2 separate regions of the Homo sapiens genome follow, and region 1 is linked to region 2. Evidence: fine-mapped expression QTL. A gene starts in region 2. The other region holds a variant in brackets. All regions are shown on one strand. Distances are between the middles of the regions. Region 1 has its middle 43 kb from the start of NUTF2P4. Region 2 holds the start of TAFA3 (TAFA chemokine like family member 3).

What was found. PIP is the estimated chance that this variant, and not a neighbour inherited with it, causes the effect. A credible set is the group of variants that fine-mapping cannot tell apart.
Region 1: its variant is the best candidate, but not a certain one, in a credible set for the expression of TAFA3 in visceral fat (GTEx, PIP 0.50).

What each region holds. Positions count from the first base shown.
Region 1 is chr1:112,789,943-112,792,886 of GRCh38, reverse strand. No RefSeq gene overlaps it. Among named protein-coding and RNA genes, the nearest start is that of NUTF2P4, 43 kb to the right of the region's middle. RefSeq lists enhancers at 302-874, 875-1,449. The variant G/C (reference allele first, on the strand shown) is at 1,394.
Region 2 is chr1:112,717,641-112,720,140 of GRCh38, reverse strand. It overlaps TAFA3 (TAFA chemokine like family member 3), which reads right to left and starts at 1,236. Exons shown (of 6, transcript NM_182759.3): 1 at 842-1,236. PPM1J-DT (PPM1J divergent transcript) reads right to left here. Exons shown (of 2, transcript XR_947714.4): 2 at 2,345-2,500. RefSeq lists a silencer at 1,127-1,176.

The sequences.
Region 1 (2,944 bases), 73 kb before region 2:
CAACCTCTGCCTCCCGGGTTCAAGTGATTCTCCTGCCTCAGTCTCCTGAGTAGCTGGAATTACAGGCGCCCACCACCATGCCCAGCTGATTTTTTGTATTTTTTTTTAGTACAGACAGGGTTTCACTGTGTTAGCCAGGATGGTCTCAATCTCCTGACCTCCTCATCTGCCCGCCTCGGCCTCCCAAAGTGCTGGGATTACAGGCGTGAGCCACGGCGCCCGGCCTGTTTGCTTTTTTGAGATGGAGTCTCACTCTGTCACCCAGGCTGGAGTGCAATGGCGTGATCTCAGCTCACTGCAACCTCTGCCTCCTGGGTTTAAGCGATTATCCTGCCTCAGCCTCCTGAGTAGCTGGGATTACAGGCACACGTCCCCATGCCCAGCTAGTTTTTGTATTTTTAGTAGAGACGGGGTTTCACCATGTTGGTCAGGCTGGTCTTGAACTCCTGACCTCATGATCCGCCCGCCTTGGCCTTCCAAAGTGCTGGGATTACAGGCGTGAGTCACTGCGCCCAGCCTTCTCTGCATGATAAAACCTTCATCTCCACAAGCCCTTATCTTAGCCCAGACATTCCTTTCTAGTGATTCTAAGTCTTTAGACAATAACTTAACTCTTTCAACCAATTGCCAATCAGAGAATCTTTGAATCTACCTGAGAGCACTTCAATTGTCCCATCTTTCCAGACTGAAGCAATGTACATCTAACATGTATTGATTGGTGTTTTCTGTCTCCCTAAAATGTATAAAGCCAAGTTGTAGCCCATCCACCTTGGGTGCATGTTCTCAGGATCTCCTGAGGGCTGGGTCATGAGCCATTGGTCACTCATATTTGGCTCAGAATAAACCTTGTCAAATATTTTACAGAGTTTGACTGCTTTTGTCCACAGAGGCCATTAGGCTGAGATGGCTTCAGCACCTTCAGTTCCTACATAAACAAACTAAAATCAAAGTCAACGTAAACCATAAAGTGAAAGTTAAGCTAAACCAATCAGAAACTGCCAACTATGCTCATTTTAAAGATTTCACCAATATGAAACCGCCAGCTAACGACCAAGCAGGGACTTTACACTTCAACCAAGCAAATATTTTCTTTGTGTTTCCCAAACACCTTATAAAAGGTTTTTCCTTGCACCCATTGGTGGAACCCAAACTGCTTGTGATTTGGCCCTGCGTGATTCATGAGTTGCTGTCCACTCAAATAAACTCTTTAAAATTTCAGTGTGCCCAAGTTTACCTTTTAACAAGTTTATATGCATTATCTTGACTAATAATCACAAGAATTGCCTTTATTGTTGATGATTATATGCCAGACACACTCCTGATTGGATCAGCAATTATCGGACAATTAGATTTGGAAGGGTGCAGGGTGACTACCCTGTCATTCGTAAGATAT[G/C]CCTATCTGCCAACCCAGGCCAGTCTCAGTCCCATCCATCAGCTTTGGAGCCAGCTCACCAGGAGGGGGTGGAGTGAAGGCCTAAAAGCGGGGCTAAGATAAGGGGTGGCTCTGTGCATCTCTTTGGGTTCTGAAGCCGCTCCTTCCCACCAGCCTGCGGTGTCTCCTCTCCCATTCTAAGACCAGGGCACGGGCATTTTAAAGACTATATCCGTCAAGATATATGAAGCCTTTGGAGACTATTGTGAAAGTTTACACAAATCTGATTATCCCCACAGTGAACTGAATTATAGTCAATTAGTCTAACAAGATTAGTGTCGAGTAGATTTGCTGAATTTACTGCCTTGACTGATAATGCGGAAAGGGAAGAATAAACAGACTTCTGTCTCTATCTTAGTCCTTTCCTTCATTCTTCATTCCCCTCCCCACTCAGAAACTTTTGGATCTTCAAGGGAGAGAGCTTATAAATCACACATGCCATCCACCCAATGGGGCAGATTCATCTGTTCCTGACCTCATTCTGGCTGCCCTTCCTTCCTGCTGATCAGTAAACAGTCCTTCATTACCATAGCAGCTTTGTCCTTCTTCCCTGGCAGTTCCTGTCCACTGGGGAATAATAATTGAACCAAAGTTTGGAGCTGAGAAGAAAGCGATTTTTCTTCCTTGAGGTTTGGTGTGGGTTGGGTGTGAATTGACCAGTAGTTGTGTGCAGGCTGGGGAGCTCCTGCTTCTATCATCAGCCAACTCAGAAATTTCATCAAGATCTAAATCTAAAGCCATTTCCCCTTGGAGTCAACCTGACTGGCATTCTCTTTGGTGTTTGACTTCTAAATCTCTCTCTAATGTGCCAGGAGATGGGGAGTTGGCATTAGTTCTAATTGTCAATCATCCCGCTCCACCATACCTTTATCTCCACTAACTTCACACCACCTAGCTGGAGAGATGGATCATTCCCTTCCTTTTACAGAAGATGAGGATGAAGCTCAGTTGACACCAAGCCAGGCTAGAATGCTGATGAGACCTCAGTGAGCTTTGCCTAGGTCCCATCCACATGCCCTTGGCATTCACCTCTGCCCATCCAAGGCTGCCCACTTAGAACATCTACATGCCTGGCAAACTAGAAGTGCCAGAGAGTGGAAGGCCCCAGAGGCAAAATGGCAAGTGGTAAAAGGGTGGGGCATAAGCACCTGGCTTCCTTGTCCTGAGTTGCCTCATGACAGCATGTCCCATATCATCTCCTGACGTTCCCCAGTAGGATAGGGCTCCAGTTGCCTACAGTGGTAACTGGCTTGGTAACATCCCTTCATTAACTTCCTTTCCTTCCCTATCTCACTTTACCACTCCTGATGGGTGTTTCCTGAGATTACCTCCCAAAAAATGCTTTGCACTTACATCCTTGTCTCAGGATCTGTTTCAGAGGAATTCAATCCAATATAAGACACTTCCATTTTTGGTGCCTTAACTTCTGGCTCTGCAGTAGCAGCACTAACAGCAGTAGTTGCTGGGCTTCCCTAGAGCTCCTAATGGGGCACATCTAGGGGTTCAGGATGG
Region 2 (2,500 bases):
TGGCACCTGCTTCCTGGACTCACATGGAGCTGGCTTGGCTTAGCATCCCTTGCCCCCATTCCCACACCAGAGGGCTGGAATGGGGACACTCCAGGTCCCTGAGCCTTTGAAGGCCACAGCCTCCAATAGCTTTCCATTTCTCCCTAAGAACCTCTCTTCCCTCACCTCTCTAAAGGGAGGCAGAACTGAAACATATAGGATGGTGGGGCCCCGGAAGGACAGAGACCCCTGAGTCCTAGCTCCTAGGAGCGAGAGCATAAGGGGAATCTGGAGGAACACAGAGAAGAGGTGCCAGTTCCCAGGGGATGGGTGTGCTCCCTGGGCTGAGCTTCCCACTCTTCTAGATGTGCCTCTTTCCTGAGTAGAGATCTCTTCTCCCTGCCCTCCAGGAACCCTCCTTTTGACCATCACAAATGCAGCTTTGTCTTCTCTCAGGTGATCCTATTTCCCTCTGAGCTGCAACATCCTCCAATCCAACTCAGGCATCTCTCCTAGGAACCCCAAGGCCCAAAAGACCTTGGTGGGGTGGGGAGCAGAGGGGTGGGGGTGTTCATTTGGGCTCTCATCCCTGGCATTCTATTCCCTCCCTCCCTGAAACAGCTGGACATAGAAGCTTCTGGGATGTGTTTTTCGACTTCCATGCTCCTGCCTCAATTTCCTAGCCTATTTTTCCTAAATCCCAATCCAGGGGTTTAGTGAGGCTGAGTTAGCAGCCTGCATTACAAGGGTTTGAGGATGTGAACCACAAGAATCTTCAACCTTTCTTCACCTTCTCTCCCCACAAACCCCCCTAACGCCTACTCATTCCTCCACATTCTGAGCCCCCACACCTGGGACCTACCTGGTCCACGGTGATGCCCACTGGTTCGATCTGCTGGCCTGAAGTCTTCCTTGCCACTGAGCCAGGGACCAGCACTCCGAAAGACAGACTTTGGGAGGGAGCGGCCAGCTTGGGTGCTGTCTAGTCCGGAGCCCTGTCCCCTTCACCAAGTTGCTGCGCCCCCGGGACAGCGGGGTTCTGGTCAGGTTGGCATCATCCGCAGGGCGGGCCGGGCTCTGGGCACAGGGGAGCTCTGGGCCCGGCCCCGCCAGCTCTGCAGAACTCAGCCGGGTTTTTTCCAAGGTTCCTGCCGGCAGGCCGGGGAGCGCGCAGCCGCCGCCGCAACCGCCGCCTCGCCCCGGGCTACCCCCGCTCCTCCAGCCCCGCGTGGGCGCCGCCGCCTCCTTCGGGACAGTGCCAGGCGCTCGGCTGAACGGATGGGCACAGCCGAGACGCAGCGGCCCCTGGCGGCCGAGGGCAAGAGGAAGGGAGAGAGGACATCCGGCACCCGCAGGTTCAGTGAGGATGGACACCTCCGTGGTGGCAACTCAGAGGAGGTCCCTCAAAACCCTGAAGGTCTTGTGGCCCCCAGTGCCCTGGCTCAGGGGAGGTGGAGGTGCTGGGGGGAAAGGAGCTGGGAGTGAGGAGTGATTGACTAGACCCTCAGGGTTTTTGAGCTTTGAAGATTGCAGAACTGCATTGTCCAATACGGTAGCCACTAGTGGCATGTTGATATTTAAATTTAAATCTAAATTAATTAAATAAAACTTAAAATTCAGTTCCTCATTAGTAGGCACCATATTTCAAATGCTCAATAGCCACACGAAGATAGGGACTGCTGTATTGGACAGAGCAGATGTAGAACATTCCCGTCAGTGCACAAAGTTCTGTTCAGCAGCACTCTTCTAGAATGATATTTAGGAGGGAATAGTAAATATCTCTTCCTCTCCCAGGAGTGGTGCTCTCAGGGGCTGGGAGGGCTAGAGGAAGTATGAGGGTGTGGGCATTAGGCAGGAGGACAGTAGTAGGCTATGAATGGTCCCTATGGATGTTAAGTGTGAATACCAACATGGGAACCAAATTCTGAGACCTAGTTTCTTGTTTCTCTTTCTTTCTTCCTTCCTTCCTTCTCTTTCTTTCATTCTTTTTCTTTTCTTTTTTATTTATTTATTTTTTGGGGACAGGATCTCATCACTCTGTCACCCAGATCTTGGTTCATTGTAATCTCCACCTCCTGGGATCAAATGATCCTCCCATGTCAGCCACCTGAGTAGCTGGGACTATAGGGGTAGTCTGTAGTGCACTACCAAGCCAGGGTTAATTTTCTGTATTTTTTGTAGAGACAGGGTTTTGCTATGTTGCCCAGGCTGGTCTTGAACTCCTGGACTCAACTGATCCATCCACCATGGCCTCTCAAAGTGCTGGGATTACAGGTGTGAGCCACCACTCCTGGCCTGAGACCCAGTTTCTTTATCAGAAAAATTGTAATGTAATTAATTGCAACTGAATAATTCTTTACAGAGATCTGTTTTGGATGCGAATGTATTAGACAAATGAGAGGAAGTGGTGTTCTGTGAATTTGAAGGGACTTTCCTCTTAGTTTAAGAGGCCTTTGGGTTTAGGGTGATGTGAAGGGGAGAGACAAGGCAGAAGATGACCAGTTCTGGGCCCTGAGCCACC